Homo sapiens: one gene and its partner. The protein of the gene in region 1 interacts with the protein of each later gene in a pairwise test. Each region holds a gene or a part of one and is shown in the gene's direction. Other genes may lie near its edges.

The links. The genes of interacting proteins can lie anywhere in the genome.
Region 2: the proteins of SPINDOC (region 1) and UQCRC1 interact in binary tests that used the Homo sapiens proteins (3 or more experiments, as listed by UniProt).

What each region holds. Positions count from the first base shown.
Region 1 is NC_000011.10:63,816,370-63,820,116, forward strand, and holds part of SPINDOC (spindlin interactor and repressor of chromatin-binding protein), read left to right. Parts: intron 1-1,435; coding exon 1,436-1,765; intron 1,766-1,846; coding exon 1,847-1,996; intron 1,997-2,157; coding exon 2,158-2,283; intron 2,284-2,432; coding exon 2,433-2,633; intron 2,634-3,747. UniProt on the Homo sapiens protein: Chromatin protein that stabilizes SPIN1 and enhances its association with histone H3 trimethylated at both 'Lys-4' and 'Lys-9' (H3K4me3K9me3).
Region 2 is NC_000003.12:48,608,229-48,611,975, reverse strand, and holds the start of UQCRC1 (cytochrome b-c1 complex subunit 1, mitochondrial precursor), read left to right. Parts: upstream 1-2,329; 5' UTR 2,330-2,355; coding exon 2,356-2,424; intron 2,425-2,673; coding exon 2,674-2,814; intron 2,815-3,747. UniProt on the Homo sapiens protein: Component of the ubiquinol-cytochrome c oxidoreductase, a multisubunit transmembrane complex that is part of the mitochondrial electron transport chain which drives oxidative phosphorylation.

The sequences.
Region 1 (3,747 bases):
TTGAGAAACTGACCGCAGAGTTTAGCACTGCTGACTTGGATGAGAGCTGTTTTGGAAGACTAGTAGGGAAGAAAGCTGATTGCAACTGAGAGGTCATTTCTGCCCATGGTCGCATGAGAGATAGGTACAAGACATATCTCGTATCTCTTTCAGACACCACCTCTTGTATCCATGCAAGCCGAGGCTCCTATTTCTCATACCACCTCTTCCATGCAGCCCCCAGGTATTAGGGCCTCCTGTGTTTTAATTTTGTCCCATCCTCTCTGGAAGGTAGGAGGGAGATGCAGCCGTGAAGGATCATGGGCACTTCGTAAAAGCACTGAGCTTCCAGGCTGATGCAGGTCTAAGGCTGCCTTCTTTGCTGAACTGGAAAGGGTGATGCCCTGTGAAAGCTTATGGTCTGTCTGTGTACACAAAGAGCAGGTATCAGGCAGCAATAGGAGTGGGACCATGGCTGTAAATGCTCTGTGAGCACTGAGAAGGGAGGCGAGTTCTGAGGGGATGGGGTGGCCTTTAGAACGGGCATGGTGGCTCATGCCTATAATCCCAGCACTTTGGGAGGCTGAAGCAGGAGGATTGCTTGAGCCCGGGAGTTCACAACCAGCCTGGGCAACATAGCAAGACCCCATCTCTTAAAAATTATTTTTTTGTTTGTTAATTAGCTGGGTGTGATAGCATGCATCTATCTGTAGCCCTAGCTACTCAGGTGGCTAAGGCTGGAGGGTCCCTTGAGTCCAGGAGTTGAAGGCAGCAGTAAGCTATGATAACACCACTGTACTCCAGCCTGGGTGACAAAATGAGACCCCCATCTTTTAAAAAAAAAATTATTAGCCAGGCATGGTGGCGCTCACCTGTAGTCCCAGGTGCTTGGGAGGCTGAAGCAGGAGGATCGCTTGAACCCAGGAGGTCAAGGCTGCAATGAGCTGAGATTACGCCATTGCATTCCAGCCTGGGTGACAAAGTGAGACTCTGTCTCAAAATAAATAAATAAAATTTAAAAATTAAAAGAATTTACCTTCCTCATCCTCAAGAAAGTGTAGAAGTCAGATTTGGATGAAATCTATTGTCAGGGATTGGGGTTCTGGAAAGCTTCGCAGGGATGATGTTGCCCAGCCCAATTAGGGTGGTCTGGACAGATGTGCAAAGGCTGGAGACCTGCAAGAATGCAGCCTGTTGGGAAAGTATGTGTAGTTAGTCCTAAGGTCCAAGACTAGATCAAGAGGAAGTATAGACGCGAGAGTCGTGGGATCCCGGGCACATCGGCTGTGTTGAGTGTGGCGTGTGCCTCATGGGCTCCAGGGGAAGGAAGAAGAACACTTTGGCCAGAAATGCTCTCCTCCCCCATCCCACTCAAACCACTGAGTCTGGAGACGTGCTAAGTGTTGTTGGTTGTGGGCACCTTTAGTGATAACACCCTCCCCCTCTCCCCTCGCAGTGACCCAACAGGAGAAGACCCCACCGCCTAGACCCAGCCCGCTAGAGGCAGGCAGTGATGGCTGTGAGGAGCCGAAGCAGCAGGTGTCTTGGGAGCAGGAGTTCCTGGTGGGCAGCAGCCCAGGAGGCAGCGGGCGGGCACTGTGCATGGTGTGTGGCGCTGAGATCCGGGCACCCTCGGCCGACACAGCTCGCTCGCACATCTTGGAGCAGCACCCTCACACCTTGGACCTGAGCCCTTCTGAGAAGAGCAATATCCTGGAGGCCTGGAGTGAAGGGGTGGCCCTCTTGCAAGACGTGAGAGCTGAGCAGCCGTCCCCACCCAACTCAGGTAGTTGGTCCTGGGGCTGGCGAAGGGAGAAGTCGGACTTGTTGGGGCACTAGAAGCTCATTGTGCTCTTGCTCCCTGCAGACTCGGGCCAGGATGCCCACCCAGACCCAGACGCCAACCCAGACGCTGCCAGAATGCCAGCCGAAATCGTCGTTCTCCTTGACTCTGAGGATAACCCATCCCTCCCTAAAAGGAGCCGGCCCAGGGGACTCCGCCCCCTCGAGCTTCCTGGTTAGTCAACAGAGAAGCCAGTGAGCCCCGGTGGAGGTGGGGGTTTGGGGACAGGGTGAAATACAGGCCCTGTGTTCTGGGCAGGTATCTTCAGGAGCCCTGGGGTGGCAGGGTTCGGGGATGGCCTCTTTAAAAGGGTATGAGGTCTTTTCTTTTTGCAGCTGTCCCTGCCACAGAGCCAGGAAATAAGAAGCCCCGTGGTCAGAGATGGAAGGAACCCCCAGGGGAAGAGCCAGTCAGAAAGAAAAGAGGCAGACCTATGACCAAAAACCTGGACCCTGACCCAGGTGAAGGGGAGGCCCGGGGGAGGCGTGGGCTCTGGCCGCAGTGCTCTGAGGAAATCCGCATCAGTGAGGATGGAGCAGGGCCTGGGCGCAGGGCGCCTGCAGCTCCTGAGGCTTTTTCACTCACAGTTCCATCCCGTCCTCCCTTCCAGAGCCCCCATCGCCAGACTCGCCCACGGAGACTTTCGCAGCACCAGCCGAGGTCCGACACTTCACTGACGGCAGCTTCCCCGCCGGCTTCGTCTTGCAGCTCTTCTCCCACACCCAGCTCAGGGGCCCAGACAGCAAGGACTCACCCAAAGACAGGGAAGTGGCAGAAGGAGGCCTTCCCCGGGCGGAGAGCCCCTCTCCAGGTGAGCCCTCCTGAGAGGGAAGCACAGTAGGGACCTCGCAGGCAGCGCTCCTGGGCCAGGCCTCAGAGAGGCTGCTCTATGGCAGAGCCCACAGTAGGGGTGGGTGGGGTGGGTGGGGTGGGTGGTGCTCAGGTTTCCTGGTACACGGGGCCGGGGCAGGGGATCTGAATGATGAGGAAGGCTGGCCTGAAAGCTGAGCTTTTCTTTTTCTGTTTGTTTGTTTTTTGAGACGGAATCTTGCTCTGTTGCCCAGGCTGGCATGTAGTAGCACAAGCCCGGCTCACTACAACCTCTGCCTCCCAGGTTCAAGCAATTCTCCTGCCTCACCCTCCCTAGTAGCTGGGATTACAGGCGTGCGCCACCATACCCGGCTAATTTTTGTATTTTTAGTAGAGACAGGGTTTTCCCATGTTGGCCAGGTTGGTCTCAAACTCTTGACCTCAGGTGATCCAACTGCCTTGGCCTCGCAAAGTACACCACGCCTGGCCTATTTTTTTATTTTTTATTTTTTGAGACAAGAGTCTTGCTCTGTCGCCCAGGCTGGAGTGCAGTGGCGCGATCTCGGTTCAGTGCATCCTCTGCTTCCCAGGTTCAAGCGATTCTCCTGCCTCACCCTCCTGAGTAGCTGGGATTACAGGCGTGTGCCACCATGCCCAGCTAATTTTTGTATTTTTAGTAGAGACAGGGTTTCGCCATGTTGGCCAGGCTGGTCTCGAACTCCTGACCTCAGGTGATCCACCTGCCTCAGCCTCCCAAACTGCTAGGATTACAGGCGTGAGCCACCGCACCTGACCAGGTGGGCTTTTCTTAGTGTTTCCTTGTTTCCTGGAATTGGTCACTGGGTCCGGGTAGGCCAGTGTTTCCCAGAAGCCTGATACTGATTTCCACACATGCAGTTTGTTCTAGCTAGAGCCTGAGGGGTGCCCACCTTACCCTGGTGGAGCTGAGGCCCAGATGGGGCCACTCAGCAATTCAGTTAGGTGTCCAGAGAATAGATAAGATGAGCAGTGGACAGACACCTCCAGGGGACACCAGCTCAGTAAATTGCCTCATAACAGCAGTAAGTGCTTGTGTTGTTTGGGCTCCTACTGAGTTTAAGAAGCTTACATACAAG
Region 2 (3,747 bases), on another chromosome or scaffold:
TAAGTCTCCACCCCAAAGTGAACATGGGTCATATACAACACACATGTTTATTCAGTATACTTGCATTAGGACCCCCTTCATGAGTATCTATAGCTCTTCCTGTAACCTGTTGAATATGGTATTTTTTGTTTTTGTTTTTTCTTTTTTGAGACAGAGTCTCGCTCTGTCACCCAGGCTGGAGTGCAGTGGCGCGATCTCGGCTCACTGCAACCTCCGCCTCCCAGGTTCAAGCGATTCTTCTGCCTCAGCTTCCCGAGTAGCTGGGATTATAGGCACATGCCATCATGCCTGGCAGATTTTTTGTATTTTTAGTAGAGACGGGGTTTCACCATGTTAGCCAGGATGGTCTCAATCTCCTGACCTTGTGATCCGCCCACCTCGGCCTCCCAAAGTTTGGGATTACAGGTGTGAGCCACCGTGCCCGGCCGAATATGTATGTTTAGCCAAGCCATTCGACATAAAGCTCCTGCCTCTTTTTAAGGGTCTGTCTCTGGTTTTGACCAGAAGCCCACCTCCCAGCCTGCAGGTTGTAACCCTTTATAAGAAATAAAGTCAGCCTGGCACGGTGGCTCATGACTGTAATCCCAGCACTTTGGGAGGCTGAGGTAGGAGGATCACTTGAGCTCAGGAGTTTAAGATCAGCCTGGGCAACATAATGAGACCCCCGTCTCCACAAAAAATAAAAAAAAATTAGCTGGGTGTGGTGTGAGAGCCTGTGGTCATGGCATCTGGCATGATTTTTATAAAGATAGTTTTATTTTAAGTATAAGAGTAGTTTTTGGGTAAGGTGTGGTGGCTCACCCCTGTAATCCTAGCACTTTGGGAGGCTGAGGTGGGTGGATTGCTTGAGGCCAGGAGTTTGATATCAGCCTGGCCAACATGGTAAAAAATGCAATGATCCTAGCCCTTGCCTCTTCCTGTACTTAAGATACTGTCTGACAGGATTAATGATTATGCTTCTGTGACCTATAAACAGATGTACTCTTGCACCCAAACCTTGATGAGATTTATGCTCTAATGTAACTTCTGAGCACATTTGATGTAATTTCTGAGCACATGGAGAGCCGCCACCACCAGTGTATAAACTGTCGGAAACACTGCTTTGGAGCAGTCTAGCAGAAACTCCCTGAAAGGCTCTCCCGGGTTGCAATTCTTGGTAAGACTTCTGAATAGAACTAACTTTAAATATTTAAAAGCTTGTTTTTTTTTTTCTTTAGTTGACATAACAAAGCATACCTTAGAAGTCTTTTTTTTTTTTTTTTTTTTTTTTTGAGACGGAGTTTCGCTCTTGTTGCCCAGGCTGGAAATGGCGCGATCTCGGCTCACCGCAACCTCCGCCTCCCGGGTTCAAGTGATTCTCCTGCCTCAGCCTCTGGAGTAGCTAGGATTACAGGCATGCGCCACCACGCCCGTCTACTTTTGTATTTTTAGTAGAGACGGGGTTTCTCCATGTCGGTCAGGCTGGTCTCAAATTCCCGACCTCAGGTGATCCGCCCACCTCGGCCTTCCAAAGTGCTGGGATTACAGGCATGAGCCACTGCACCCAGCCAGAATTCTTTTTCCTCTTACAGAAAAGGAAAGGTTTCACCATGTTGGCCAGGCTGGTCTTGGACTCCTCGCCTCAAGTGATCCACCTGCCTCGGCCTCCCAAAGTGTTGGGATTACAGGAGTGAGCCACCGCTCCCGGCCTGTACTTAGTTCTTTTAAAGAGAAAACTGGCAGGGCGCAAAACTGGCCAACATGGAGAAACCTTGTCTCTTCTAAAGAAACAAAAATTACCGGGCATAATCCCAGCTACTCGGGAGGCTGAGGCAGGAGAATCGCTTGAAGCCGGGAGGCGGAGGTTGCAGTGAGCCGAGATCGCGCCATTGCACTCCAGCCTGGGCGACAGAGCGAGACCCTGTCTCAGAAAATAAAAAATAAATAAAGAGAAAAAAATACTGACTTTCAGCACCAACTTGTGGTCCCAGGTAAGTTTCCACGCTGGTACTTTAGCCCTGGGCTCGAACCTGCGGACACGCTGTGGCTGCAACTCCCCGCCCGCCAGACCTCAGTACGCAGCGCGGCTGGTGAGAAACATAATGCACTCTGACTTCCACGCGTGGAATGGGGAGATGGACTGCACGGCGGGCGGACCTGCTCGGGCTGATGGACGGCAGGTGGACTGATGTGCGCAGGGACTGGCGGCAGCGCGGTCAGAGCCAGTCAGCCAAAGCCAGGCCAGCACAATAGACTGTCCCGGTTCCCGCCAGGAGGCGGCCGAGCACCAACTGTACGGTACTGCGCCTGCGCCGCGACCGCCAACGCGCCCAGTCTACGCTTGCGCGGCGCAACAGGGCCGACTGCAGCTGGAAGATGGCGGCGTCCGTGGTCTGTCGGGCCGCTACCGCCGGGGCACAAGTGCTATTGCGCGCCCGCCGCTCGGTGAGGTGGTGGCGAGAGCGCGGGGCTTCGGGACAGGGCTTCGGGAAGCGGACAGGTGTGGGCTGTTAGCAGTGGCAGGTCGAGGTGGGGAGGACGCGGGGTCAGGGCCGTGGGAAGGTCACGGCGGAGGGCGGGGAAAGGTATCTCGCCGCTTGCCTAGGGGCGGGGTTCGGGGGTCCTCCTGAGGACCTGGGAGGTGGGGAGCGATCCCCTGACCGAGTCCTCACTCGCGGCTGTTCCCTTCCACAGCCGGCCCTGCTGCGGACGCCAGCCTTGCGGAGTACGGCAACCTTCGCTCAGGCGCTCCAGTTCGTGCCGGAGACGCAGGTTAGCCTGCTGGACAACGGCCTGCGTGTGGCCTCCGAGCAGTCCTCTCAGCCCACTTGCACGGTGAGTTGGGGACGCTTTTGGGGAGAGGGCCTCCAGGTTGGGCCTGCCGTCTTTTCCCTGGTTGGGGTGTGACCTTGGGCTCGAGTCTTCCCGTTTGTGGTTTGGGTTCGGACCCAGGACCACTCACCCCGAGAATGGCCCCATTCCCTACCCTAGCCACGCCTTGGCTTCACGGGACAATCTTCACTATAAGCCAACATTATTTAGCATATAATGCCCGTTAAGTAGGCGGCCAAATTCTTTTCCAGCCTTTTGTTAAGGAGCCCATATAAGGGAAGTGATCATGTCTCCTCTTATAATGCGGAAAATGGGATTCAGACACCTTAGGTGACTTGCAGGGGTCCAGGTCTGTCAGCCTCACTGCCCAAGGTCATAATCTCCAGGCTAGACCAGAAATACATTTTAGGAAGCAAATGCATTTTAACAGTACAATGAAATGTGTGATTTTCCAAAAAATACAAATTCTCTAAATTGACACAAGAAATCTTGAGTCACAGATAGATATATGAATAGGTGAGAAGATTCCCAAGAAATAATTATCTCCTCCTCCTTTCAGCCCCCAGCCCCAGGGCCAGATGTTTTTATTGACACATCCTTTTAGTTTTCCAGAAACAATGTCCTGCGATTTAAATTGTTACTAAGCATAGGAAAAGGTGGCCTGCAACTTCCTTGTTATATGTCACTTGTTATAGTAAAGAATGCTATATTACATGAACTCTAAAATGTGCTAGATTGTAAGGAGCTGTCTGTGCTCCAGTGCCAGAGAAAGAATCTCAAGAATCTTGCCAATTTTAATCAAAGGATACTATAGATTGTAAAATGCCTCTTGCATTCCAAGATGTTAGATGTGAAATACATGTTCATCTAAGATTGTGTGATATATGGTATATGCATTGACATCTCTTAGGAAAGCAAATATCACATGTTCTCACT